Homo sapiens: one gene and its partners. The protein of the gene in region 5 purifies or fractionates together with the protein of the main gene of each other region. This does not show direct contact. Each region holds a gene or a part of one and is shown on either strand. Other genes may lie near its edges. The genes, in order: CWC22, ACIN1, ZC3H18, TCOF1, CAMKV, AP3B1 and GPC1.

The links.
Region 1: the proteins of CAMKV (region 5) and CWC22 purify together in Homo sapiens (affinity purification with mass spectrometry; 4 studies listed by BioGRID and IntAct, with this or other methods). This does not show direct contact.
Region 2: the proteins of CAMKV (region 5) and ACIN1 purify together in Homo sapiens (affinity purification with mass spectrometry; 4 studies listed by BioGRID and IntAct, with this or other methods). This does not show direct contact.
Region 3: the proteins of CAMKV (region 5) and ZC3H18 purify together in Homo sapiens (affinity purification with mass spectrometry; 4 studies listed by BioGRID and IntAct, with this or other methods). This does not show direct contact.
Region 4: the proteins of CAMKV (region 5) and TCOF1 purify together in Homo sapiens (affinity purification with mass spectrometry; 4 studies listed by BioGRID and IntAct, with this or other methods). This does not show direct contact.
Region 6: the proteins of CAMKV (region 5) and AP3B1 purify together in Homo sapiens (affinity purification with mass spectrometry; 4 studies listed by BioGRID and IntAct, with this or other methods). This does not show direct contact.
Region 7: the proteins of CAMKV (region 5) and GPC1 purify together in Homo sapiens (affinity purification with mass spectrometry; 4 studies listed by BioGRID and IntAct, with this or other methods). This does not show direct contact.

Annotation. Positions count from the first base shown.
Region 1 is NC_000002.12:179,972,521-179,976,606, forward strand, and holds part of CWC22 (pre-mRNA-splicing factor CWC22 homolog), read right to left. Parts: intron 1,283-4,086; coding exon 1,114-1,282; intron 727-1,113; coding exon 673-726; intron 1-672. UniProt on the Homo sapiens protein: Required for pre-mRNA splicing as component of the spliceosome. As a component of the minor spliceosome, involved in the splicing of U12-type introns in pre-mRNAs. Promotes exon-junction complex (EJC) assembly.
Region 2 is NC_000014.9:23,061,101-23,064,722, forward strand, and holds part of ACIN1 (apoptotic chromatin condensation inducer in the nucleus), read right to left. Parts: intron 3,389-3,622; coding exon 3,255-3,388; intron 3,158-3,254; coding exon 3,005-3,157; intron 2,478-3,004; coding exon 2,336-2,477; intron 1,975-2,335; coding exon 1,829-1,974; intron 1,424-1,828; coding exon 1,316-1,423; intron 1,176-1,315; coding exon 1,068-1,175; intron 523-1,067; coding exon 198-522; intron 85-197; coding exon 1-84.
Region 3 is NC_000016.10:88,621,987-88,626,072, reverse strand, and holds part of ZC3H18 (zinc finger CCCH domain-containing protein 18), read right to left. Parts: intron 3,877-4,086; coding exon 3,685-3,876; intron 2,855-3,684; coding exon 2,729-2,854; intron 2,116-2,728; coding exon 2,011-2,115; intron 1,472-2,010; coding exon 1,328-1,471; intron 872-1,327; coding exon 806-871; intron 1-805.
Region 4 is NC_000005.10:150,367,605-150,371,690, reverse strand, and holds part of TCOF1 (treacle protein), read right to left. Parts: intron 3,848-4,086; coding exon 3,774-3,847; intron 2,976-3,773; coding exon 2,789-2,975; intron 2,163-2,788; coding exon 2,089-2,162; intron 1-2,088.
Region 5 is NC_000003.12:49,859,464-49,863,549, forward strand, and holds part of CAMKV (caM kinase-like vesicle-associated protein), read right to left. Parts: exon of another isoform or gene 3,912-4,086; intron 2,940-3,911; 5' UTR 2,926-2,939; coding exon 2,831-2,925; intron 2,714-2,830; coding exon 2,582-2,713; intron 2,403-2,581; coding exon 2,328-2,402; intron 2,115-2,327; coding exon 1,976-2,114; intron 1,838-1,975; coding exon 1,717-1,837; intron 1,556-1,716; coding exon 1,480-1,555; intron 1,390-1,479; coding exon 1,253-1,389; intron 1,087-1,252; coding exon 1,008-1,086; intron 796-1,007; coding exon 708-795; intron 419-707; coding exon 1-418. UniProt on the Homo sapiens protein: Does not appear to have detectable kinase activity.
Region 6 is NC_000005.10:78,113,083-78,117,168, forward strand, and holds part of AP3B1 (AP-3 complex subunit beta-1), read right to left. Parts: intron 3,153-4,086; coding exon 3,044-3,152; intron 842-3,043; coding exon 670-841; intron 1-669. UniProt on the Homo sapiens protein: Subunit of non-clathrin- and clathrin-associated adaptor protein complex 3 (AP-3) that plays a role in protein sorting in the late-Golgi/trans-Golgi network (TGN) and/or endosomes.
Region 7 is NC_000002.12:240,442,002-240,446,087, forward strand, and holds part of GPC1 (glypican-1 precursor), read left to right. Parts: intron 1-4,086. UniProt on the Homo sapiens protein: Cell surface proteoglycan that bears heparan sulfate. Binds, via the heparan sulfate side chains, alpha-4 (V) collagen and participates in Schwann cell myelination.

The DNA of each region.
Region 1 (4,086 bases), on a different chromosome or scaffold from region 5:
AGATATTTATTAGATTCTCATGAACAGCAGGGAATGAAGTGGAGGAGATACCAACTTTATTGTTTTATAAAAATGAAGGGAATGGTTCTTCAAAGGAATGGTTTGCAGTCAAGTAACCATGTACAGTATTAAGTCAGATTAATTTGATAAATATCTAAAGTGTTTTGATCAGCATCAAAGTGTTATATTAAAGAATATTAAATATGGCCAGGCGTGGTGGCTCACACCTGTAATCTCAACACTTTGGGAGGCCGAGGCTGGTGGATCACGAGTTCAGGAGATCGAGACCATCCTGGCTAACATGGTGAAACCCCGTCTCTACTAAAAATACAAAAAAAACTAGCCGGGCGTGGTGGCAGGTGCCCGTAGTCCCAGCTACTCGGGAGGCTGAGGCAGGAGAATGGTGTGAACCCAGGAGGCAGAGCTTGCAGTGAGCCAAGATTGTGCCACTGCACTCCAGCCTGGGCGACAGAGTGAGACTCCATCTCAAAAAAAGAAAAAAAAAAAGAACATTAAATATATTTATTATAGTTTTAAAATGAAAATATCATCCAACATTTTTATCCCAAGGACTATAAAGCAAAGCAAAAATAGAGAGGTATCAGTGAAGTGGCATCAACCCTCTGGTCTAATGCCACTGAATGGGACCAAGTATTGAAGATAATTACTTACCACATTTTGGTTAATAAGATGCGCCACAAATTTTGAAGCAGTCAGGCAAAGTTGCTGAAAAATAAAGGTGGAAAGTTAACCTATAAACTAAACCCAATTTTCATTTATTTACATAATCTATGGCCTACTAACATCATCTATTTAAAACATGTACCACACAAGTATAATTTTTACATTATAAGAAAGTTACAAAATAAAACACATGAAAGAGTATCCCTTCTGGTTAAATAGTTATAGTTCTACAGTTATAGCCATCATTTTTGTGGCTCATCAATAGTGGCCAGGGATATTTAACAGATCAAAGAAGTTCTCATGAAAGACAGTTTTTAAAAAGCATTATGTTATGTAGCTGTGTCAAAATCAACCTTGCTTACTTTTGTTGATACTGGTTTGTTAGTTTGTTCCTATGTATCATTCTACTTACAAGCCATTCATATATACCTTGTCATTTCTTCGATAGCCTTTTCGAAAATTAAGAATTAACCTTTTGAGGATTAATTCTCCAATTTGTGGAAATTTTGAGTTGATAATTGCCACTAATGCTGCATAAACATGGGTGAAGATTGGAGAAGCACTCTGTGCTTGCAAAACAGACCTGGACAGCAGTCCTCTGTTTAAAAAAGAATTTAAAAAGGAGTCAACAATAATCACCAAATTAATTAAACGAAACAAAAACTATTAAAATTCAGTAATATTTCTCTATAAGTAATCATAAAATCTAAATCAGAACTAACTGGAAAGAGTTTGTCTTACTAATAAATAAAAATTGTTTTTCAGAAAACGAAATGTGAATTTGTGATTTTGTAAAATAGAATGAAGATTTTACTGCAATTTATCACCAAAATTTTTCTCTCTACATATAATTCCTCTTTTCCCAGTCTGTTATATCTAATCATGAATTTGAACCTTAAAAAGGTTCATATAAATAATTTCTTTAACATTTTTTAAAAAGTAAACAAAAGCAGACCTGCTTCAAAAGTATAAAAGGTAGATAACATAAAGTTTCTACTACAGATCTGTCATTTTTATAAAATTAATTTTGTGATTAAAGACAAATTTGGGTTTAAATCTTTAAGTCTAATTTTAGTAGAATAAAATGAAGATGTGGAATACTCCTGTGAGAAATAAAGAAACGAATTAAAAGCAATGCCAGATTAATGCTAAAACAGTAACAGGAAATTAAAAGGTACCTACTTGTAACTCATTTTGAAAATGGTCATGTTTCTATATGCATTTGATGAGGAAGGGGAAAGGCAAATTGGGCAAACTAAAGTTACTTTTAGCAATGTAATGACAAGTAATTATTGGATTGCCAAAAGTCAGGAAAAAAAGTCTTAATGGTAGTTTTAGATATGACAACTGAATCACTAGAGTGGAAAATAAGAAAAAGGATGCAGCTTATAAATTATAGTATCTTTAGCAATCCATAACTCTTCTAAGTCTACTTTTTTTCTAAGTAAATTGGAGAGATCTCTGCCCACTTTTGAGGATAATGGCTGTCTCTTGATCAACTTTCTCTACCTCTAAAACTTGCTGCTCCTACTTTATACCCCCACCTTTTTTGGAGAGGTTGGGGAGAGACAGGGTCTCACTCTGTCACCCAGGCAGGAGTGCAGTGGGGCGATCTTGGCTCACTGGAAGCTCTGCCTCCTGGGCTCAAGCAATCCTCCCACCTCAGCCTCCGGAGGAGCTGGGACTACTGTGTGCCACCACGCCCAGCTAATTTTTGTATTTTTCATAGAGACAGGTTTTCACAATGTTGCCCAGGCAACTCCTGGACTCAAGTGGTCCTCTTGCCTCAGGCTCCCAAAGTGCTAGGATTACAGGCTAGGATTACAGCGACCGTGCCTGGCCACTACATTCCATATTTTTTTAAAGATGAATCATAGTCATGTAAAATGACATGAGAAAACAGCCCTCAGATTTTAAAATAATAAATACAACATGGAGTAATTCTATTTTCTGACCCTTTTAAATATCACCAATTGCTTAAAGCCACATATTCTTATAGAATACGGTGATTCCCTTCTGCTTTTCTAAAATGTATTGCTCATCTTTCCCATTTCTCTCACATTCCCATTTCACTCTCACTAGAAATTAAATTGGAATAAAGGCCATATATGACGAACCCATAGCTAATATACTCAACGGTGACAAGCTGAAAGCTTTTCCTCTAGGATCAGGAATAAGAAAAGGGTGCCTACTCTTTCCAATTCTATTCAACATAGTACTAGAAGTCCTAGCCAGAGCCATTAGGCAAGAGAAAGAAATAAAAGGTATCCAAATCAAAAATAGAGAAGCCTGTTTGCTGTAAACAGGATCTTAATATAGAAAACCCTAAAGACTTAACCAAAAAATTGTTAGAACTAATAAACTAATTTAGTAAAGCTGCAGACACAAAATCAACATACAAAAATCAGTAGTGCTTCCATATGCTTACAATGAACTATCTTTCTGAAAAATCAAGAAAACATCCCATTTACAATAGCTATGAAAAAAAAAGTTAGGAATAAATCTAACCATGGAGATGAAAGAGCTGTACACTAAAAACTACAAATTGCTGATGAAAAAATGGAAGAACATGCATGACATCCCATGTCCATGGACTGAAATAATATGTTAAAATGTCCACAGTACCCAAAGCAACATACAGACTGGACTCAATCCCTATCAAAATTCCAGTTACGTTTTTCACAGAAATAGAAAAAACAATCCTAAAACTCACATGGAACCACAAAAAACTCCAAATAGCCACAGCAATCTTGAACAAAAAGAACAAAGCTGGAGGCATCACACTCCCTGACCTGGAATCTGCTACAAAGTTATAGTAATCAAAACAGAATGACAATAGTATAAAAACAGACACATAGAGCTACAGAGAACAAAGAAACCAGAGATAAATCCAGACATTGGCAGTCAACTGATTTTCGACAAAGATGCTAAGAAGACACAATAGGGAAAAGACAGTGTCTTCAATAAATGGTGCCAAGAAAACAGAATACCCAGATGCAGAAGAATGAAAATAGACCTTAGTCCCACAGCATATACAAACATCAACGCAAAACAGATTAAAGACTTAAACATTAGACCTGAAACTGTGAAACTACTATAAGTTTCTAAAAGAAAAATACAAAGGAAAAGCTCTGAGACACTGGTATGGTTAATGATTTTTTGGATATGACCCCTAAAGCACAGGCAACAAAAGCAAAAAGAGACAAATGGGATTACATAAAACTAGAATGCTTCTGCACAGCACAGGAAAATATCAACAGAGTGAAGAGATGACCTACAGAATGGGAGAAAACATTTGCAAACATACACCTGATAAGGGGTTAATATCCAAAACACATTAGGCATTCAACTCAATAGTAAGAAAACAAATAACCCAATCTAAAAAATGAGCAAACAAGAACA
Region 2 (3,622 bases), on a different chromosome or scaffold from region 5:
GGAGCCAATAGATGCAGGGAGCTGCCTTGGTCTTTCGGAAAAGGTCATCCAGCAGCTTGGCAGGTGGTTCCTCCTGGGCTTTCTCTGAGGTGGAAAAAAGTGAACCAGATATGATGCATCTGACCCTCTGTCCCATCCCATCTGGGTCCCTTTCCCACCTACTAGTGGGTATGCGTACCCCATAGCTAAGTACCTACCTTTCTTCTCACTCTTCTTTTCTTTAGACTTCGCACGTTCCTTGCGGCGGCGGTCACGGGACCTTGATCGGGAACGGGGCCCTTCTCGAACTTTGTCCCGATCCCATTCACGCTCTGATCGAGTCCGCTCCCGCCGCTCCATTTCCCGTTCCCGTTCTGCCCACTGTTCCCGCACTGCCCGTTCCTGCTCCCGCTGCTCTGCCCGGGGGTGCTGTGGTGGCTGGACCGGGGGTGGGGGTGGGGGGTGCAGGGGCCGTGGTATTCCCTGCTCCTCTGTCTTAGTTTCAGAGGGACGGTCCACCAAGAGGCCTCGGTGATAATCCAGCTGTGGGGAGAGGAGGGACAAGGACAGTTAGGATAGAGGTGATATCACTCCCACTCAAGGAGCCAGGATGGCCGGGCGCGGTGGCTCACGCCTGTAATCCCAGCACTTTGGGAGGCCAAGGCGGTCAGATCACGAGGTCAGGAGACCGAGACCATCCTGGCTGACACGGTGAAACCCCGTCTCTACTGAAAATACAAAAAAATTAGCCGGGCGTGGTGGCGGGCGCCTGTAGTCCCAGCTATTCGGGAGGCTGAGGCAGGAGAATGGCGTGAACCCGGAAGGCGGAGCTTGCAGTGAGCTGAGATCGCGCCACTGCACTCCAGCCTGGGAGACAGCGAGACTCTGTCTCAAAAAAAAAAAAAAAAAAAAAAGGAGCCCAGGTACCACTTTGAAGCCCCATGGTACAATTAAAGGAACCAAAGCCAGGGAAGAAGAGAAAAGAACAGAAGCTCAGAGACTGCAGGTCTGGCAAGGATCTCAGCTGAAATCTAGCAGATAATGGCTTCCCCTGCCCCTCCTCTCTTTCCTCTCCCTAGGTTTCTTACCTCATCTTGCTCGGCATAGTCAGCACAAAGGAATTTGGGATTGGACTGGGGCCATTTGACCCCGTGCAGAGCTGTGCGGGTGGCAACAGCTTCCTCTACTGTTGAGTACTGGTGGAGGAAGGGAGAAGATGGAGGGTCACAGTGTGTCTGCAACCCTTCCCACGTGCTGCAACACCCTTAAACCTGCCCACACTGGTCACAAAAGGAAATATATGCCATGACCTATAGAATCAGCTTCTTCCCCTCACCGTTACAAAGCAATGAGATTTGATCTTGTCAATCCAGAAGGCCTCTTCCACCAAGGTTCCTGTGCGCCCCAACAACTCCTTTAGCTGGCCTAAAGTGAAAGGACGGACCTGCCAATGAAAATAGACTTTCAGGGTCTAGCAGAAGGCAAGACCACCACCCAATCTTTAGATTTCCCGAGCTGCTGTCACAGGAGTATAGTTTCAAGGTTTGGGGGAGGGCAGAGAGTTTAGGAACCTTGCAGTAAGAATGTGAGAAGAGTGGTGGTGCTTCCCAGCACTAATTGAGACGTTGTATGTGAGGCCTTCTGCAAGTCCTCAAAACAACCCTGCAGGGCAACAGCTTTTCCCCCTCATTTTTAGATGGGTAAATATGTTAAGTAACTCACTCAAGATCAGTGAGTAACTTAATCTATTGGTAGACCAGTTCAACTATGAGTGGAACCTAGGAGGCATAAGCCTAAAGCTCAAACTTAACCACTAAGCAAGCTGGGATGGTGAGAAACAATGACTTACCAAATTGGAGATATGGACAATGTTGCTAATCTTGCCCCGGGGTGGGGAGGGCACCTGGGCAGTTCGGACTGGGTCATCAATGGTAATGGAAACTCCGGACTTCTGCTGGCTAATGGAACGTCGAGTTAAGGTATCTCCTAAAGTCACTATCAAGAAGACCACAAGAACAGCTTTTGGTAGGAAGCAATACTGGCTCTTTTCACCCTCAATGTAACTCTCACGGTTCCCTTTCTTTTATACCAAGCAGCCACTCCTTAATCTAAACGTGCAGAGCACCTATAATCTGCAAAGTACTGTGCTAGGCTAACCTCCTCATCATGGAGATTCAAAGATTAAACAGAGTCAAATCTGGCCCTCAAGTAGCTTACTTAATATGTAGGAGAAAGATATGATATACGAAAAAATATAATGAAAGGCAGGAAACATTCAAAGCTTTCAGCGATCCAAATGAGGTGCTCTGAGAATTCAGGGAGCCGCATTACATTTCTCTCACAATATGTCACTCACCTTTCTTTACTTCATGCTCTGCAGGTGGGGGCAAGGCCACCTCTACTGACACCTGGGGAGGTACAGGAGGTTCTGCTTCAGGTTCCTTCTCTTCTTCCTCTTCTTCCCTCTGCCCATTCTCCTGGCCCTCTGCAGGTACTACCTATCAAGGTGTCAGAGAACACAGCAGGTCTGTTAAACACCAAACTGGCATATTCTTTTCAGCCTCTGGTTCCCCGGTAAGAGTAGCAGTCAATCTAGCATGTTCCTTCCGCTAGGGGTATTTCGTTATCGGCTCACTTCTACCAGATCCTGGGATTGTTAGTGCCTCAACTTTGCCTTGAGGAAAACTAAGACAGGAGTTAGTAAATTTTTTCTGTAGAGCAAAGCAGTACTTCAGGTTTTGCAGGCCACATAGTTTGTTGCAACTACTCAACTCTGGTGATGTTGTAGTGAACAAACAGCCACAGACAAAAGTGAATGAACTCGTGTGGTTGTGTTCCAATCAAACTTTATTTGTAACAGGTAGCCAGCTGGATTTGGTAGTCTGACCCCTGAAAGTGTCAGTCAACCCAACCCTCTGCACAGACAGGGAAGTTCCCTCCAAAGACTTTATCTCAGCTCCTCAGCTAGCTGCTCTGCATCTACTGCTCCCACCTTTCCCCTGACACTGGGGTGCAGAAGCCTTACCTGAGTGACTGTCCGGCATATTTTCAGCCCCTTGTCATGGGTCCCATCATCGCCATTACGCTCTGTCTCATCCTCAGAGATGCGAGAGTCATCAGCATGAAGATCCACAACAGCCTCCTGCCCCGCCAGGGGTTTGATGTCGGGGATGAGGCTCTGGGACACAGATACCCCCCACCCCGTTACACTGGGCCCATGTCTACTCCCACCTTAACAGGTCTCATCCTCCCTTCCCTGGCTCCTCCCACCTCACCTTTAGTGATTCAGTGGTGATACTGATGGAAGGTTTCTTCTGTGTGGTGGCTGTGCTGGCTCCCCAGCGTCGTTTCCGACCAGGCTGGCCCCCCTCTGTGTCACTGTTTCCAGCTGGCACCCCCTTGGTAGCTGCTGTCCCCAAGAAATAGACCCAACAGTTAGATGGTCTCAGGACCTCTGCTAGTTCAAACCGTAATACCTACAGGTTACCTCTGGCTGGAGTTTTGGTAAAAGGTTAACTTAAAGAAATCATATTTGGAGGCTGAGTGTGGTGGCTCACACCTGTAATCCCAGCACTTTGGGAGGCCAAGGCGGGTGGATCACGAGGTCAGGAGTTTGAGACTAGCCTGACCAACATGGTGAAAC
Region 3 (4,086 bases), on a different chromosome or scaffold from region 5:
GGTGGGTGGAATGCCTGAGCTCAGGAGTTTGAGACCAACCTGGGCAACATGGTGAAACCCCATCTCTACTAAAATACAGAAAATTAGCTGGGCGTGGCAGTGTGCGCCTGTAGTCTCAGCTACTCAGGGGGCTGAGGTTGAATCCGGGAGGCGGAGGTAGCGAGATCGCGCCATTGCACTCCAGCCTGGGCAACAAGAATGAAACTGTCTCAAAAAAAAAAAAAAAAAAAAAAATCTTTTTCTGTGGAGATGGGGTCTATGTTGCTCAGGCTGGTCAAGTCCTGGGCTCAAGCAATCCTCCTGCCTTGGCCTCCCACGGTGCTGGGATCACAGGTGTGAGCCGCCGCACCTGGCCCACAAAGCTTTTCCATGTATTCTCTTCTCAGATGTTTTTATCGGCTTCCCCACCCCCTCAGGCCGGTTCCCTCGACAGGTGTGATAGGTCACGCAGGCCCAGCCTCTGCCCTGCTGGGCTGGAAGCTGCCGGCTCCTCCCCAGGTGCAGGTGCTCTCTCAGGGTGCTGGGCATCAAGTCAGCAGGGCAGAGGCACCTCCTCCTGACCTGAGTGCCCCCGAGTTTGTGAATCTTTTTTTGGTGGGGGGAGGGGGTCTTCCTATCACGAGTCCTGGCCCATTTTCTCCTGTGTCAAAGCTTCAACCGCAGCCTTCCACAGCCCCAGGGTGACTCAGATCCAGAAGGGCCCCAGCCCACCTGTGGGAGACAGCCCAACCCACACTGGCTGCTTCTGGGACTTCCTGGCCCCGACGGGGAGGGAGAAACAGAGGCACAGGGTGATGGGGATGACCTGGATCGGGAGCTGGAACCACTATAGCTGCTACCACTGCCACTGCCGCTGCCGCTTAGCGTCCGCCTGTAATACAAGCAACAGCGGGGCTCAGGGGGCGTGGCCTCCACAGCCCCTCGCGGCCTCCCCTCCCCACCAGCAGCCCTGTGAGGTGAGCCTCCAGACTGGCCTTGCTACCACCTTGGAACAGGGCCTGGGCCTGTCTTCCTTTAGGCTCAGTGTTTTGTCAAGATAAAAAGTACAGTCTCTCGGGGGCAGCACCTTCCAGTGCAGACGGGGCCATGGCGGGAAGGCCTGTGCTCCGTGCCACGCTGTCCCTTCCCCTTCACGCTCCAGAAACACAGGCTCAGGGAGGGGACAGGGCAGGTTCCCGGGTAAGGGCTCACTGGGTGCTGCTCGGCTAGGGGGCGCTTCCCACCACCTGGCTCTGGACCCTGGCACTCTGGATTTCCAGCAGTGCCAGCATCACAGTGGCACCAAGAACACGGAAAGCCTGAGGGCCCCGGACGCCGGAGTGCTCACCTCCTGGGGGGGGTCCTGGCTGGCCGCTCCTTCCTCCTGGCTTCCCGAGGGTCTCCTGGCTTGGTGGGCTCGGGGACAGGAGCAGTGGTTTTGGTGGCCTGTGGTGGGGCTGGAGGCGGGGCCGGCTTCTTCACTGACTTCTCTCTGTGAGACAGGGAGGCTCGAGCAGGGCAGGGCTGGTGGACGGGGCCCCGCTGGCCTACATCCCCTTTCAATGGACCCACAGCTCGGGGAACGACACTGCATGCCTGTGACGCTCGGTGAGCACGCTCGTGCCTGGACACGGCTCCCCACCCATCGGTGTCAGAGTGCTTGGGAACGGCTTCAAAGCCCCCAGCAGCCCTTCCAGGCTCCCCTCTAACAGGCAAGAGCTACAGGCACCGCCAGGCAGTGGGGAGAGCAGGCTAATAGGAAGACCCCTTAAGAACACCCGGCTGCTGCCGTGTCCCCAGGGCTGTGCTCTGTCCCCAGGGTTCCCGAGGGAGTGCTGCTGTGTAAGGGTGGCCCGTGAGAACAGGAGCTGTGCCCAGTGCCTCCCAGCCCAGTCACCCCCTGGGGCCAGCCCCCTGAGGCATCCTCACCTCTTTGGTCCCAAACACAAATGAGAGATAGAGACGGAGGGAGGAGGCTGCAGCCTGTGGAGGCCTGGCCGGCCAGGACTTGCCCACAGGCTGGGCACTCACCCTGCTTTCCCGGGCGGCGGGGCCGGCTCTCCCTTGGTTCTGATGGAAGGTCTATGTGGGGAAGGTGTTGGGGACGGGGACGGGGACGAAGAGAAGGACCGGGACCTAGGGGAGTGAACAAAGGTGTCGGAAGGGGCCTGGGGGTGTTTCTTCACCAGCCCAAGCCCACTGAGGACCCACCCAGACCCATGGAGAAGGCCACGAATTTCCATTTATGTGCCTCAGTTTTAACTTCAGTTCTGGACTGTTCTGTCATCTGCTAAAAACACAGGCCCAGAGTAGACCAGAGAGCGTGGAAGGTGTCAGCATCCACTGGCGGGTCCTCCGGGAGGCGAGTGTCACGTTCATGTGTGTGCAGGACAGGAGGAGACAGGCTCCTTGGCAGTGGGGCAGCAGCACAGCTCCCATAGAAACACCCACAGGACAGGGCTGGGTCTGGCCCCTTCCTCGGCCTGTCTGCGGAGGACTGGAGTGCCTCAACTCGAGGATCTCAGGCTGTGGCCCTCAGTGACAGCACGCATCTACACAAGGACGAGGGCCCGCAAGGCTGGTGTTTGGTGGGGGACACAGGACACGACCCCCTGGCCATCCTAGTTCAGCTGCCAGCAGGGACCTTCAATACCCCAAGGGGCTACTGGCGCCACAACTAAAGCCACATCCGCAGGTGCCCTTGCTCACTGCACCTGCTGAGGGCCCTTCATGGGCCCTGGGGACATACCTGGACCGGCTTCCTGAGAACGAGCTGTGTCTGGAAGAGCGGCTGGAGTAGGAGCTGTAGGATGAAGACCGGGATCGCGACCGGGAGGAGCCGGAGCCAGAGTAGGACGATGACCGCGAAGACGACCTGGGGCGGGCGGGACGGAGCGTGGCGAGAAGTGAGAAGGGCCCTCCCTGCCCCACACGCCCTGACGCACACATGCACAGCTACACACCCACAGACGCACAGCTACACACAAGCGCACAGCTGCGCACGCGCGCACAGCTGCAGACGCGCGCACAGACGCATACAGCCTCCCCCAGACACTCTTCAGTGCCATCCCTCCTTGGTGCAGAACGGCATTTAGAAATCAAGACCTGGGCGTGGGGTGTGCCTGCTGTTACCGGGTGGCGCTGCCTGAGTGGGCAGACCCAGCTCACGTGGGTCCGTGTGTGTGTCTATCTGTTCATCTGCATCCACTTTCAGTGAAGCCTGGCCTCCCACCCACACCTCCTGTTCCTGCCGAGCATGATGGGGTCTACCCCGGCCCCCTGCTTTCCATCATCCCTCACTCGGGAGCCGGGCTCCTGTGTGCTGAGACCAGGACCGTAGGTGGAGGGGCAACAGTTTCAGGTCCAGTCTGGAGGAACAGATGGACTCACTGGGCCCCAGGTCTGTGCGTCCTCCCGCATCCAGGTGCCCCTCCCTCCAGTGTGGCCTGTGACTCCCTGGGAGCAGTCAGGCTCAGTCGCCGGGGTCTGTGCCCCATTTGGGGTCACTGCGTCAGTCCTACTTGGCATTGATGCTCTTTGCTGAAGGTATAAACGCCGGGTTAGTCCCACTGACTGGTCTGCAGGTAACGACGCCACAGCAAACAGTGGGGCTGGGGTGTTCCCCACCTGACCCAGTGAGGTACATGGTGTCAGCTGACGGCTCCAAGGTGCTGACACCCCAGCCGTCCCACGAGCCCTCCTTACCTGGAGGAATTAGAGGCAGAGGCTGACGAGGCTGATGTTTTCCGACGCCTTCGAGCCCGGCTCGGGGAGACCGACACCCCGAGTTTCTTCTTGGGAGACTTGGATCGGCGCCAAGGGTCCTTCCACTCATCTGCTCTCTTCACCTGCGGCCCCGTGGTGGCAGCCTCCTTCTTTGGTGGCTCAGCTTGGCGGCTGAAATTACAGAGGCATTAGCAACTCTCAGGCCACCTTCCGCTTCACAGCAATGCCAGGTGTGACAGCAGCGGGAGAGACTATGGATCTCATACCTGGCTTATTTAAGGATCACCTGAGAAACAAAGGGTCCTAAGGGGAAAAAAGGCCACTCACAAAACCCATCACCCCATGGACTTGGGTGATGTCCATGGCCCTTGGCTCAGTGTC
Region 4 (4,086 bases), on a different chromosome or scaffold from region 5:
GCTTGCATCTCAATCAGGAGAGCGCATCCTGTCTGCCCCTTAAACTCAAGTATCTGATCACAGCAGCCCTCCTGAGGGCCAGGAGTTCAGGATGTGAACACCACCTCTGCCACTGGCTTGCCACACCTTGGGCAAATTCCTTCCCTCTGTGAGCTCTTTCCTACACTTCCACAATTCAGACATTTCCCAGGCAGTCAGTGCCCTACTTCTACCTCTGAGATCCATCAGACCCCTTGCGGCCCTGGGTTTCTGGGGCGTCTGCTACTGGAGCTCTGCACAGCCTCAGCCCATTGAGGTTGTGTGTTTATGGAGGGCTGGGAGTGGTCTTCTTCCCTTTGGCAAGGCCTGGGGTGACAGAAGCCAGGGATGTCCTTACAGCTGGTGGTATCTAGGGCGCAAGGGTGAGGACGGAAGGTGGAGGGCAGCCCTTGGTAAGGCCTGGGGTAGATGGGGGTGAGCTTTCAACCTTCACAGGGTTACTGGGCCAGGCAGCACAGTAAAGTGAGAAGTTCCCTGGGCACCAGATCAGTTCATCCCTGACTTGTGCTGGTTTTCCCTTGAAAACATCTTTCCAACTGTGGACACCTTGGTCTCCCAGCCCCCAGCCTCTTATGCCAGTATCAGTATTACTCCAATAGTCTCCTACATGGTCTTACTGCTTTTATTCTGCACTGCCCTCCAACCCAGGCTGCAGCCAGCAATCTTATTAAATGCAAATCAGGCCATCTCTCCTTGCTGGCATGGCTTCTCACAGCCCCTAGAATAAAACCCAAATTCCTTATGGTGGTCCTCAAGGTCAGACAGAAGATCTGGCCCCTGTCTACCTAGGACTTCATCTTGTGTCACTTTCCCCATAATTTATTTGTTTTTTTAAAAAATAACATCTTGTAGAGACAGGGTTTCACTATGTTGCTCAGGCTGGGTTCAAACTTCTGGCCTCAAATGATCCTCCTGCCTTGGCCTCCCAGAGTGCTGCACTTACAGGTGCGAGCCACCGTGCCTGGTTTCTCCCTCTCATTTAAAGATCAAGGTTTTGGCCAGGCGTGGCGGCTCATGCCTGTAATCCCAGCACTTTGGGAGGCCAAGGCACATGGACCACTTGAGGTCAGGAGTTCGAGACTAGCCTGGCCAACATGGTGAAACCCTGTCTCCACAAAAAATACAAAAATTAGCCAGGCGTGGTGGCGTGCACCTGTAATCCCAGCTACTTGGGAGGCTGAGGCACGACAATCGCTTGAACCCGGGAGGTGGAAGTTGCAGCTAGCCAAGATCGCGCTACTGCACTCCAGCTTGGGTGACACAGTGAGACTGTCTTAAAAAAAGATCAATGTTCTTTAAAAGCACCAAACTCTCTTTGCCGCCTTCTCTGCACATGCCATTCCTTCTGCTTACGCCTACTCATCAACGTCAGGTTCCTGCCCTGCGTGGCCCTCTACATTTCCACTTCATAGCAGCCATCACCAATTAAATATCTGAGGGACGCTCCCTTGCCCCATGGCAGCAGGAACTCTGCCTGTCCTGCTCATCACTATATTCCCCAGGTCTGCCACTTAGTAGGTACACAATAAAAAGTAACCTGTGGAGACCTTTTCCAGGTCAAAGTTCACAAACCCAAGAGTCCTGCCCAACTCTAGCCAAGTGTCTAGGCCTGGCATTCACCAGTTGGCCCAGAACCCTCTCAGCAGCCGCAGCCCTAGCCAGACCACGACAGCCACACTGTTGCCTCTGGGCCCTGTTCTTGCCCCATTTCCTGTCTGGAATGCCCTGCCTCCTCCACATCCCTTCCCAGTGAAGCCCACTGTGCTTTGAGGCCCTACTCCAGGGCACCTCTCCCAGGAAGGCTTGTCTAGTCTCACAGGCAGGAGGGTGTCCCTCTCCTGCCCCCAGGGCTGATCTCACACTCAGAGTGCAGCAAGCAGCACCAGACTCCTCTCCCTGCCCCTCTCCGGCTGCAGCCTTTCCAGCTCCTGGTCACCCTACCACAGTTGCTGAACTCATCTGGGCCCACTGGTGTCTGAAGCCCCAGACAGGTTCCTGGAAGGGTTAGAGGCTGGGAGAGGGCAACTCCTAGGGATGGGTGGCAATTACCTCCACGTCTGTCTCATCACTGGAGCTGGAGGTGTCCTCGCTGGAGCTGTCGGCCTGGCCCGCTGACACCATCCCTGAGGATCGGACACGGAGGGGACTGAGGGACTCCCTTTCCAGCCTCACCTGCCCCTCCCCAGCACCTCCCCACAAACCAGCTGCTCATCAAAGCCAGGTGCTGAGCGCTCACCCCTCGTGTGCCTCACATGCACTGAGCTGTGAAGCCCCCTTCTGAGGTGGGTACCATCACCATCCCTATGTTCCCACACATCTCTGAGGCCCTGGGAAGGGCTGTGAGGGGACCCAACAAATATGCACCAGCACCTGACAGTCTACAGAACCTCCATCCACCATCATATCCACTGATGCAGGCCAGACAGATGTCTACTCTACATAGGAAACAGAGGCAAATCAGGCCTTTCAGTTTAGTCTCTGAGCTGCCAGTTGTCCCTGTAACTCACCAGGGAGTCATAAAGCAGAAAATGCTCCAACCACCAGGTGGGCTGTTCAGCCTGAGGCCAGGTCCCTGTAAGCTGACCCTCCCTCGTCTAGGTGATGAGAAAAGTCCTAAGATGCAGGAACCTGGCTGTCCTGGAGACAAACTTTTGATTCCAGAAATGTCCCAGAACTTAAAGCAATGCCTAGGCCTGCCTCACCAGCCCAAGTTCTGGGGACTAGGTTCCTAGAGGTGGGGACTTCTTACCAGGCTTGGCAGCAGCTCCAAAGGCCGGGACGCTGCCCTCCTCCTCAGTTTCTGAGACCAACGTAGTATTTGCTGAGGGCTCTGCTGACTTCCTGGGAGACTTCCCAGAAAGAAGGTTGGCCACCGTCTTCCCAGTGGCAGGGTGTGGCATGGAATTCCCAGTCTTGCCAGCTTTCTCTGTCTCTGCCTACAGAGAACAAGAGTGACAGACACATCTGGTATGGCATGGTGAACTAAGAGCACAGGCCACTTGCATCTGAACCCAATCTTACCACTTCTTAGCTGTGTGAGTTTGGGTAAACTACCCCTTCAATCTGTTTCCCAATCTTTAAAGTGAGGTTAAAAACAGCACCTCCTCTCACCAGAGGTGTTGAGAAAACAGAATCCCAGTTCTTGGGACATGGTAGTTATTTACTAAGTGGTAAGTAGCAGTTTGTTGTTGATCTTATCATTACTTCATAATTACTTTGAGACATTGTTGCTAATGCTCCAGGCAATCGCAGAGGCACAATTCTTTATACATGTATGTATCTAACTCTGCTTTCTGGATTATTAGAAAATGACACCTTGTTTTTTGAGCAGTTTCCAGTTTGGAAAATGCTTTTAGAGTTTCAGAACCACAGATGTCTTGATCACTACGGTGCCTCCACACCTAGCACAGTGCCTGGAACATAACAGGTATTAGTCAAGATCTGTTGAGTGAACGGGTGAACGCAGGCATGAAAGAGGAAAGAAATCGCCTACCCCAGGTGTAGAATGTGCCCAGTGGCCCACTGCAGCAGGCATCATCCTTATCTTTATAGAAAAGTAAACTGAGGCCCAGAGAGGTGAAGGGACTAAGATCCCACAACTGGTGACACAGGTTGAGCTCTGAATCCAGGTGGGGCAATTACTCACAACCCTATCCTTCTCTGACATGTAAGACTGTCCCCTACCAGGCACCTTAAATCCCATAGGCAATAGCTTGGAAGGCAGTCCCACTCACCTTGGCTTTTTCTTTCATGCTTGATGGCAAGTCCGCCCCCAGGACTGAGGAGTTGGTAGATGCTAGTCTTGGGGCTGCAAGAAACAAACATCTGCTAAAGGAGCCAGATGAGCTTTTCTCATCTATGAATGGCAAACAGGTTTCATCTCACCTAACAATTCTATTGGTATTGGCTGCCTGGTGCTGGCATGAGGATCTGAGGCTGAGCCCAGACTTGCAGGAATGAGCTCTGTGATGCATCAGCCAGGTCCACCAGGAGCAAGAGAGAAGAGGATGGTAACATGAAGCTATGTGTCTGCATCCTTGATGGATT
Region 5 (4,086 bases):
TGGCCAGCATGGCACTGCTTTGGGTGGTGGGCACAGTGCTCTCTTCTGTGGCTGGTGTGGCTCTCCCATCAGTGGCTGGAGTAGCGCTCCTGTCAGTGGCTGGGGTGACACTCCCATCAGTGGCTGGAGTGATGCTTCCATCGGTGGCTGGGGTGACACTGCCATCAGTGGCTGGGGTGGCACTTCCATCTGTGGCTGGGGTGGCACTACGGTCTGCGGGGGCCACATTATCACTCTTTGCAGCACGAGCAGCATCACCCTCAGGGGCTGAGGTAGCTCCACTCGCAGCTGCAGCTGTGGCCCCACCTGCAGCCCCGGGGGTGGCAGTGTCTGTGGCTGAGGCCGACTGGGCTGCAGCCGTGCTGGACTGCTCTGGTGCCCGGAGCCGTTTCATGAGGGTGGTCACTCGGACAGCCTTCTGAAAGGAGCACAGTGGAGAAAGGCTAAGGGTGAGGCTTGCTGGATCCATTGCTTGGCAGTGACCAAACCAAACTCCTTCCATAGTACCCCCGGCCACCTCCATCCACCCCAGGGCCAAGTACTCAGCTGCTCAGCACTCCTACTTAAGGTAATCACAGTGGCTACACCCACACCTGATGGCCTGAGAAAAGCTTGTGTGTGGCTGCAGGGGTGTGATGCAGGCAAGAAACTGAGTGCCAGAAGCAATACTTGGGATAGAGCCAAGAAGGGAGTTATCCAAGCCTTACCTTCCACTTGGCCCTGGCAAAGTTCTTTTCAATCTGGGCACAGACACCATCCTTGATGTTCTTATCAGAAGCAGCATTGCCAGAAATCCTGGAAAGGGTGCAAGTGTGTCTGGATCTGAGAGAATGAGCCTTTGTGGAGACTCTGCTCAGCCCTTCTATGTGGCATCCAGGGACTACCAGGCAGAGCCTCTGGGCTGCCCTGAGCTCTAGGTACCTGCACCCCTTCCAGGCCTCAAAGATGGGGCTGCTGGGTGTGAGGGGGACCCTGGCCTCTCCCACCCTCCCCTGGACCCTGCTCACCACTCATGGGAGATGGCCTCTTCTGCAGTGATCCGCTGGTCTTGCTCCACCTCCATCAGCCTTGTGACCAGGTCTTTGGCTGTGGACAAAACCAAGAAGGGGATAGTCATGGGCACCCCATCTCAATGTCTAGAGGTGATAAATGGGCTGGGGGACAGAAGCAGAATACCACAGAGGAAGATGAGAGCAGGACACCCTCCCCACTCCCTTGCGTTCTACCAAGTGCTGGGCAGGCACCTCCTCACCTGCCTGCGAAATATCATCCCAATATGGAGAGTCAAACTCATAGTCACCAGCCAGGATCTTGCGGAAGAGATTCTTATCATGGTTCTCATAATCATCTTCTTCCACCTCCTCATAGAAAGGTGGATTGCCTGAAAGCCTGCATGGGGGAAGGGTCACACAGAAAGGCCACAGACACATGCCCCCACCCCATCTGACTGCAAGCCTGCTTGTCCATCTGTCCACTCACAGGATGTACATGATGACTCCAATGGCCCAGCAGTCCACAGGGCGTCCATACCGCTGCCGGCCTACCACCTCTGGGGCTACAAACACAGCGCCCATCTGCTGGTCAGTATCAGGCCTAGCCAGGTCCAGTACCATCCACACCAGCTTCCTGAGATGAGCACATTTTCCCCCTGCCCAGAGCAGCTCCCTGAAGGCTGCCCCCCATTATCCCCCTGCCCCTGCCCCACCCCCTGCTTGCCCAGATACTCGGGGGTCCCACAGGGCTCCTTGATGAGGCCATTTTCTAGCTTAGCCAGATGGAAGTCACTGATGACAATCTTCGAGTTCTTCAGCCGGTTGTAGTAAACCAGGTTCTCCAGCTGTGGTGTGAGAATAGCATGTGGGTGAGCAGAAGACACCATGAGGACCTTGGAGGCTAGACCAAGGCCCTGAGGTGCTGCCCACCCCAGCACCAGCCCAGCTGCCAACTGGCCCTTTGACTCTGGCTCTGCCCTCACCTTGAGATTCCTGTGCACGATCTTGAGTGAGTGCAAATAGGCCACGGCCTCCAGGACTTGCCGTACCACGTTGCTTGTGTCTCGCTCCGAGTAGTAGCCCTGGTCCAGGATCCAGTCAAACACCTCCCTCCCCGTGGCCCTGAGGGACACCAGCCCCTGAGCCTGGCGTGGGCAGAATCAGGGGTAGGGCAGGAGCACTTGGGTGAGCTGCCTACGCCAGGCAGCTGGCTGAGCAAGGCACAGGGACCTGGGACGCCAAGGGTCCAGAAAGGGGGTTTCCTTAGCTGCAGAGGGTGGGACAGGTGAAAGCCCTGGGCGCTGGGGAATCTTGGGTCCCCAGACCCACACTCACAGCTCCAGGAAGATAAAGTACTCCTTGCGGGTCACAAACACATCCACCAGCTGTAGGATGTTGGGATGCTTCACCCTGGCGACAGGGAGGGGAGCCAGTAGTTAGGGCTGGATGAACCCCTGGGAGAGGCTGTGGTCACCACAGTGGCCACAGCAGACTAATTGGCCAGAGGCTGGGACTGCCTGAGGCCACTTGCCCTCTAAGCCCTTCCCTGCTGCCTCCCACCCCGCCCCAATCCCAGGCCTCAAACTCACATCTTGAGGATGCCTATCTCGTTCTTGGCAGCTTTCCGCACCTTGCGGCCGTCCCGCTTCTGGAACTTCTTGCAGGTGTGCAGCTTGCCTGTCGTCTTGTCCTTGGCCCGGAAGATTTCACAAAACTCCTCACTGCAGCCGACAGGCACCCACTCAGGCCTGGCCTTAGCATCAGCTGCACTCCACTGCCACTTCCCTAGCCCCTGCTCACCAGCCCACCCAGCCTTGCCTGACAGGCCCGGCACTCACGTCTTGATGACCTGTCCCAAATCATATCTGTCAGTCACCTCCGATGGCTGGTTATAGTTCTTCTTGTCGCCCAGAGTCACACACCCAAACGGCATTGCCAGGCTCTAACCTGCGGGCACAATGGGGTCTGGCTTAGCTGTACTACTCTCCACTTCCCCACAACATAGGGGCTGCTTTTGGGAGACCCCAACCTGGCTCAGGCCAAGCTAGGGGCAGAGACCATACCAGGAGGGGCTAGAGGATAGGCAGGCTTAGATCCTACCCCTGCTTTTCTGGCTAGACATCCAGCTACTCAGCTTGGCTGCCTGAAGTGCAACAGCCTACATATGAAAAAATGTATTAAGCTGATATATAAGGGAATAGTTTTGTATTCTATACATTCAAAAAAAAGGCTTATCAAACAGTTTATTTAAATTTCAGCTATTTTACAGATGAAGGGGGCTATAACCACCCACCCACCTGCTAGTCATCTCTGAAGGTCTAGAGCTAACAAGTGTTAGTGGATATATGAAGAACGTGAGCACTGCTAGGAGAGGGCAAACTCCCCTTTGTAAAGCAGTTTGGTAAAACCACTAAAGTCAAACAAACATACCCTATGAACCAGCAATTGCACTCCTAAATACGTGCCTACAGAAGTGCACATATTCGTGCATCAGGACAGTCATACAATGCTCATAGTAGCCATATACATAATCGCCAAAAATTGAAAACAGACCAAATACCACCACCAACAGGATGTATTGTGGTAGAGTCACACAATGGAATATTATATAGCAATGGAAACAAAGGAGCTACAGCTATACCCAACCACCTGGTGACTCTTACACAGTGTTAAGTGCAAAAAGACACAAAAGAATACATATAGTATGAGTCTATTGATAGAGTTCAAACAGGCAGAACAAACCCGTAAGGGGGATACAAACACAGCAGTAGAGCTATAAAGAAAAGCTAGGAAATAAGCAGAGTCAGATAATGGTCCCTTCTAAGAGAAAAGGAGGGGTTATGATTGATTCAGGACACATGGGGGGATTCTGGAAGACCTATTTCTTTTCTTTTCTTTTCTTTCTTTCTTTCTTTTTTTAGAGACAAGTCTCACTATGTTGCCCAGGCTGGAGTGCAGTGGCTATTCATGGGCACAAGCCCACTACTGATCAGCACAGGAGTTTTGACCTGCTTCGTCTCTGACCTTGGTTGCTTCACCCCTCCTTTAGGCAACCTGATGAGCTCTAGCTCCCAGGAAGTCACCATACTAATGC
Region 6 (4,086 bases), on a different chromosome or scaffold from region 5:
GTCAGCCACGACTGAGCCGGGCTGCAAGCTCATCAAGTGAGCGGGCAGCAGGCTCCCGGGGAAAGGACCATCATGTCGGCAGAGGCCACTCGCTGACAGCAGCGGGGAAAACAGAGTTGCACAATCCAAGATATTAGACCCAATTACTCAAAATTTTAATGACACTTTAATACATGATAATGTTATTGATAATGGGAGATCTTAAAAAGTGCTAACACTTAAAGATCTTATGACCGTCTTCCTTCACAGCCCTTGACTCTAATATTTGGATCATAATCTTTTTAATATAACATTATTTAGAAAAATCAATTGTCTTGGTTACATAATGGCAAAGTGTTGAAGGATTTAATTTTAGCCCTCAGCAAAATCGCTACAAAAGGTAATTAAGTGTTTCATACCTATTGCTTGATCACTTAACTCAGCCTTCCAAGGTTATACCAATTTTCAAAATGTAACCCCAAGATATGTTCAAGTTCAAAATGAAAGCTAAGCATTACAAGTAGGAAAATAATGTGAACAACTAGCACTTTAATTTTAAAAAGATTTAATATCTGGAAAAAAATACACACTTTTTTTCTCTCACCATTTTTTGATTAATAAGAAACATCTCTGCCTGGGGCAAACTTTCACAGAATATTTTTTGAAGGAAATTCTGACAAAATAAGTTACCTTTTTCCTTTGGCTTTTGAGTTCCTCTTGGCTGTTCTTTTGTTTTCTAGGCCTGACTCCCGTCCACTCTCACTGTCCTGCTCACTGGAGGAGTCCTCACTGCTGTCCTCATTGCTGTCTCCTTCCTCCCCACTTTCGCCTTGTTCTCCACTTTCACTTCCAGATTCACTCTCTGAAAAACAGAACCAGATGTTCTTAGATTTATAGTCATTTAATTAGACACACGGACACCTGTAACTGTCAATATTCATCACAAATGAAACCAGATGTTGAATTTTAGTTCAGTGGACACCACTTGTTTAACATTTTATTCCCACACCCCATTCTTTCAGCTCTATGGATTCCTTTAGCACTGTGAGCTTGGAGGGAGGCAGACAGAGGATGCTCTGACAACGAGGAGAGAAAAGCTAAGCAAAGGTGAACCAAGTAAACCAAATTTGAGGGAATCTCACTTCAAACCCCAAAGTATATAGCTATGTCAAAAACTTTCTTTTAAAGAATTACGTAAGGATTGATGTAAGGCTAAAGAAATAATTTTGAATTCTTCTGCTTGTAATGGGAAATTCTATTTAGAGTAAAAGAAGGCAACAGTTGAATCTTCTTAGGAACAAATTTTGAGAGGAAAATGAGCCATTCAAATCACTTGGAAAGACCTCCAAATTCAAAGACAATAGGCAAAATGACTAATTAAAGAGTTATTACTTATTCGAGCTAGTAAACGAGTTTTCCATAGGTCAAAGAGATGATCAAGTTACACTGAGGAATTATACTTTTAAATGTTTTATGTGTAAATTATGGTATGCTAGGACTGTTCGCAGAAGAGAATACATGAAGAATATATGTGTATTTTTTAAGTGAAGCATAATTTTTACTATTTAAAATGACTATAACTACAGAGTTGTGTCCCAGACAAAAGGACAAACTGTTGCCCTGCCTGTGATCTATGTAACGAAGCCCTCTTAGGCAGGAACATAACCTTTAATTAAACATTCTAATGGTTAAATAATACCAACATCAGGAAGGTCCATCACAGTGAAAACCTAGGACTGCCTGTATTGTTTTAAGACGGCTTACAAGGGGTACAAGCATGGGTTCTCAAGTTAGTGTTCGGATTCAGATCCTGGCTCTTCTACTTGCCAGTTGTAAAACTGAACAAGTTATTCAACTTCTCTGGGTTTTGGTTTCCTTTTCAGCAAATGGGGATAACACTAGTTACTTTTCAGAGCTGTTGTGAAGATTAAATGATTTGAAACATACAAAGGAGATTAGAACACAACAGGGTCTGCCACAGGGTAAGGCACTCATCATTATCATCATTTACAAACAGGAAAGTTTATTTTACTAAAATAAAGCTACTAAATAAGGACATTTTAGATTTGTGGTAATATCCAAGTTACACGCACATACATATTAAGTCAGATAACTGGCTTATGCTATAAACAATGAAAGAAATTACAGGTAATGTATCACAGATTAATTTATCAGATACTAAAAACAAAGATTTTTGATAAGGAAGACAGAGAAAAGAAGAGTGAATTACCTTACAGTAGGGTAGCAGATAACCATGTAAGAGTGACAGGCCCTGGTTCTCCAAGGAATAAAGATTTTAGAGAAAGTTGGGTGTCGTTTGGTCTTGGGTCAGATTTGCCTATTAGCTTAAGTGTTAATAAGAGCATCAGAAAGTGACTACAATCTATTTTTCATTATGCAAATCACTCACAGAATTTTAGCAATGAAGGGACTTTAAGAAATATTTAACTGTACCCCTTCATTTATCTGATATAGAGAAAAGTAGGTGCCTTATTCAATTTGCATAGGTAAAAGCCAGGGCCTCTAAATCCTTCCTATTAAGCATTCTTTTCACTGCATATAGTTACCCTCAACCTTTAGTTTGATTTTTTTATAGTATATAGAGACTTAATAATTTTAGCTTTATCTCTATAGAGGTTCACAGAAAGAGATAAGTATAAAATGAAAGAGAAAAAGACTCTTCAAGGTATAAAATAAACTTTACGTTTTTGTAAAAGAAAGTTACTTTTAAAGACCCCACTAAAAGTTCATCAAGTGTAAAATTATGTTTTTCAATAGATATATTAGGCATTGTGGTTTAGAATTCAGAAAAGTATGAGTTCCTGTTTCAGCTATACCAATGTATCAGCTACTATCCAAGAGATATTGTAAAGTAAAAAGAGAATTTAGTAATTAAAAATTACTTTGAAAACTAAAGAGTGATATATAAATGAAAGGGATTATTTTGATAATACAAACTTCACTTAAAACTACCTGCTGAATATTATGGATTAGGCCTTGTTTCTGAGATATAGAATGTAATCTACTATGTAAATAATATATGCCAATAAATTATAAAACCCACCACTGTCACTGCTACTATCAGAAGAGTCCTCCTCTTCCTCAGATTCAGAATAAAACTTCTTAGCAGAATTCTCTTGCTTTGCTTTTCCTGCTGGGGTCCATTCTTTTGCCTGTTTAAACAAATAAAGTAAATATAAATGAATTCTCATTCAGAGATTTAGAGTTCTGGCAAACTTAATCATTAACAACATAACTGAATTCAAAAGCAAGCTTAAGGCCTCCACAGGGAATGCAACTGTTAGAAGTCCTGGCATTAAGGCTGATTCACTTTACTCCTAAATACAACAACACAAACTCTCACTCAGAGGCCCTATGTTAAACCAACAATCTTATTTTAAATATACAATTTTTAAAACTTTTGTGTTTTTTGGCCCACAGAAGATTTAAACAAAAGTAATATATCCTAAAATAGGTGAGCGAAACTAGAAGCAGATACAATAACAGCAATAACAAACACAAGTTGATAGCTTGACACTGAGGGAAAAGAGAGAAAAAAAAAAAGAAAGAAAAGAAAATATTTAGTGTAGGCAATAAATTGCCCTAACCATCTCAACAGCCTAAATCCTGGAGTAATCCTTGACTTCTCTTTTTTTCTCATATCCTAAACATCTAAGCCATCAAGAAATCCTGTAGCTACCCTGGTCTGACCCACCCTTCTCTCCTGGACTACTCGTTACCTTGCTTCTACTGCCCCTCCACCCTGCCCCCAGCAAACAAACTTTGCAAAACACAGCATCTAGAATGATTATATTAAAACCTAAATGAGAGCAAGCTCCTTTTTGGCCTGAAACCCTGCAGTGGCTCCCCATTTTACTCAGAGAAAAAGCCGAAGTCCCTACAACAGTCTGCACAGCCCAATACAACCATCCTTTCATGACTGCCCCTCCACAACTGTCCCCGTCGCCTGCCTCTCTCACCTCTTGCTGCTCACCCTCTTGCCTGATCTGCTCTGGCCATGCCTTACTGTTCCTCCAAACGTCCCAGGCATGCTCCCAGTTTAGGGCCTTCACCCTAGCTCTTGGCACTTCCAACACCATTCCCCAC
Region 7 (4,086 bases), on a different chromosome or scaffold from region 5:
GGTTTAGGAGCCCCTGAGAGGGCCAGGCCAGCCTCACACCATCCCCTCTCCTGCCTGTGGCCTCAGCTCCATCTCCCGCCAGCTCCTGCTGACCCACCTTTCTGGCACACCTGTCCCCTCCCTCCACGGTGTCCTCCCTGTGCCCACCCACAGCACCCGCCTCCTCCGGCCTTTCCCCACAGCTTGACTTCCCGGGCATCGGCCAACACGTACCCTCCCTGTTGCCGGGGCCCCCGCCTGGGCAGGCCTGAGCTCCACACAGGGTGGGGAAGGCCCCGAGTCCCTCCCGGTACCGGGTGGGGCTGGGTGCCGGGGTTGGGAGCACAAGTGTTTCCAGGGCTGTCGGAACAGTGCCACAGGCTGAGCAGCTGCAGCTGCAGACATGGGTCGTCCGTGGTTCTAGAGCCTGGAAGCCTGAGATCAAGTGTGCGTCCACCAGGCTGGCCCCTTCTGAGGCGTGAGGAAGTCTGCTCCACACTGCCAGCTTCCAGGTGTTCCTTGGCTGGTAAATCCCACCTTGGCCTCCACAGGCCGCTCTCCCCGTGTGCGCTTCTGTCTCCGAATTCCCCCTCTTCACAAGGACACAACTCTAATTGGGTCAGGGCCCACCGGTACCATCTCTTCTTAACGAGAGGTGTCACACAGACTCCACACCCAAAGTCACATCCTGAGGAATCGGGGTTAGGCCTCAGCCATGTGGGTTTTGGGGGTACAGTTTAGCCTGTAGTGGGGAGCTAGCCCAGCCCGGCACACCTACATCTTCCCATCAGGTGGCAAAGACCCCGAGGCTCTGGGTGTTTTGTGATTGTGGCCTCCTGAGCACTGGGCCGTGTTTCTGTAATGGGCTTAGAGCTCAGCACAGATGTGCCCGAGACCCTGGTGACAGTGTGAGGGAGTGACCACGCCCCAGCCTGCCACTCACCCCCGTCCACCTGAGGCGCTCTCTGGGCACAGCCTGGTCCCCACAAGCCTGGGAGGCCTCAGCGTCAGGCCCTGCACAGCTACTGGGTCCTTGGCCAGCCCCTCCTGCCGTGGGCCTCCGCTTTTCCCTCAGGTCCGGGTGGCAGGGCCGGGCCACTCAGGTGATGTTCCAGGTCTAGTGGTACAGCAGTGGCTGAGGATGCCGCCGCCTGTGCCGTCACAGAACTGGGGTGGGGGGCAGTGGCCAGGCTGGCCTGAAAACCTTCTCCAGGTTGCGTTGCGGGAGCCCAGGCTGGGAGAGTCGTGGTTCAGTGGTGTGAGTGTGCCTTGGACAGGCCCCAGTCTCCCACTTGTCAGGGGGCAGAGCCCTTCAGGTGGACTTTGGGCGGGGAGGCAGTGGGACTGCAGGGCGAGGGTTTGGAGATGTAGAGATGAGGGAGGCCTGGGGGCCAGGAGGCTGCACCACTGCTGTCTCCTGAGGCGGTGGCTGGCCGAGGAGGCCCGCTGCTCTCTTGTGCTGAGTGCCCCTTGGGTCCTGCAGGCTTGGCAGGGTGACAGGGCAGCCACCCAGGGGCTCCACCTGTCCTGCTCCTTCAGGAGGAGGAGACCTCCCAGGGCTGTGGTGGGGAGGAGGGCCAGCCACAGAGCCACTGCAAATCATCCCTGAGGCCAGGCGACTCGGAAGCAGAAACCCTGAGCCCAGCACGGGGCAGTGGGAGGTGAGGCCCAGCGGCATCTGTGAACTAGGCCTCCTGGTGGGCTCTCAAGGTCTTTGATGGGGCGCAGCCGGTGGACAGGGAGAGAAGGGTCCCTCTTTCCCCAGGCCCTCCCTCCCCTGGTCCTCTCCCACCTTTGAGGTGCCCCAGGAGTTCCCAGAGTCGGCAGCACCAGGGGCTGTCTACCGGGTGGGCTGAATACCACTTAGTTTGCAGATGGGAAAGCTGAGTCCCAGAGAGGGGTTCCCAGGGCTCAGAGCTGAGAGGCCTCGCCGCCTGGGGCCAAGCCCCACACTTGCTTGCCGAGTGACTCACTCCTGCTCTGGGCCTGGCTAGCAGGGGTGAGGCTGGGTCAGAGGATGGGGAGCTGGGCCAAGGCCACAGACTACCCCGCAGGTGCAGGCACCCAGAGGCCTGAGGGGCACCGGGAGCGCACAGGAGGGGAGGCTGTGAACACGGCCCGGCTTCTTTGCAGCTCCGTGTCGGGGCCATGTGAGGACACACACCGCAGGAGGGCCCGGCCAGCCTCAGCCCAGCCCAGCCGCCACGCCCGGTGGGTCTCCTGAGGTCAGAGCCAGCCCCACAGTGGGCACCACATGCCCGCCTGCTGTCCTGGCTCCTCCTGAGGGACAAGGGTGAGCTGGGCGGGCCAGGAAGTACAACGCTGCTAGGCTTCTGCTCTCGCCCCACAGAAGTTCAGGTTCTACTGAGAAACTTGGCTGGGGCTTCCGGGGACTCCCAAATCCAGCCGCCCAGGACCCTGCGGCACTGTCCATCCTGAGCCCCGTCCTCACCCGCTGGTCCATCCTGGGGTGATGGATCTGGCTGCAGTGACCCCGATGCTCTGAGGCCCAGAACAGCACGTCTCCCTCCTGGGAACAGCCAAGCCTTAGGCCCATGCAGCAGCGACCGGATCCCTAGCCTCCCCGGCAGGGGTGCTTCCTGGGTGCGCCATCAGCAGTGGGACCTGTAGGGAAGTCTGTGGCCTGTGCGCACCTTCAGACGATTTCCCCAAACACCGACGACAGCTGTCCAGTGCGTCACAGAGCTGTGGCCTATGGGTGATCGTCTCAGCCTGTCCCTGCATCTGGTGCAGCCTCAGTGCCCACTGTGGACCCCGCAGCCCACCCGTGTCTGGCGCATCCTTGGTGACTGGGGCTCCCTGTGGCTGTCTGATCCCATCCCTGTGGTAACCCATGTGTGACGTCCAAGTGTCTCCTCAAGAACCGGGGCCAGGAGGCCCATCCTTGGCTCTGGAGACTGCAGGGAGAGCATCCCACCCACCTGTGACCATCTACCAGGCCCTGGGGACAAAGCTGATGCCACCTGCCACCAGGGTTGGCTCAGGCGTTTACATGCATCTCCAGTTGTCATGGAGCTTGGGACACACTGGACCCAAGGAGGTATTTTAAAAGGACAAGTCTCTCACGTAATCCAGCCCCACTGTTCCTGAACGCGATGCCCCCTCCCCGAGCCTGGCGGGGGGCTGTACACAGAACACTGCTCAGCATCTTCAGTCTCCCTCCTGTGGCCTCACACCCAGGATGGTAGGTGTTAGAACAGGTGCCTCCCTGTTCTATGTGCGTGGCCTCATCCTGTGGGCAATTTGGGGTGAGGGGTGGCTGCAGGTCAGACAGATACCTGGGAAGGTCCCCTGGGATAGGGTGGCTCCCAAGCGGGAGCAGTTGCCCTGGGCACTTGTGACATCCCAGTGATTGAGGAGTGGGGGTGCTCTGGTGTTTAGTGGGTGGGGCCAGGGAGCCCAGTAATCCTGCAAGATGGAGGTGCCCTTCCACAAACGCCAGTAGCACCCCCAAGAGAAATACTTGAACTGAAGCTATAGGCAGAACCACGCCAGGGGAAGAGGGAGCTCAGGGGAGGGGGCACCACTCAGCGCCAGGTGCTGGGATGGGAGGAAGGGCAGACTGTGGTGGCCAAACACCAGCATGCAGGAGGGTTGTTCTAGATGCATCCATCCTTCTGTGGGTGCACGGATGAGGTTCTGGATGTAATTCATGGGCTTCATGAACTTGGCTGAGAAAGAGATTACATCTCCATCGTTGCTAACCTCTAACCAGAATTTAGCATTTTTTCTTACTCGGAACGATGGTGTTCCGGGACCTGGGGCTTGGTCACCAGTAGACGTCGCCGCTGTTTATGCCCCTCCACGTTCGTAGCAGACAGCTTGGAAAACGGCGTCCTCTCACTGTGACTTTGAATTGTAGTCAGTATTAGGCCCGTTGCGGCTCCTGTGAAACGGCTTCCCGGGGAAGCACGTGCGTTGCCACCTCACAATTCGTTGTATCACATTCTGGTAACTGCTGTGTGATGAGTGCTTCCTCCATGGTCCTCTGTGTAGTTGTATGCTTCAGAAACAAGCATCGTCCTGAGAAAGCGTCTGCGGCTTCACCAATGGGCAACGGGGCCCACGGCACAGAGAAAGTCCGGC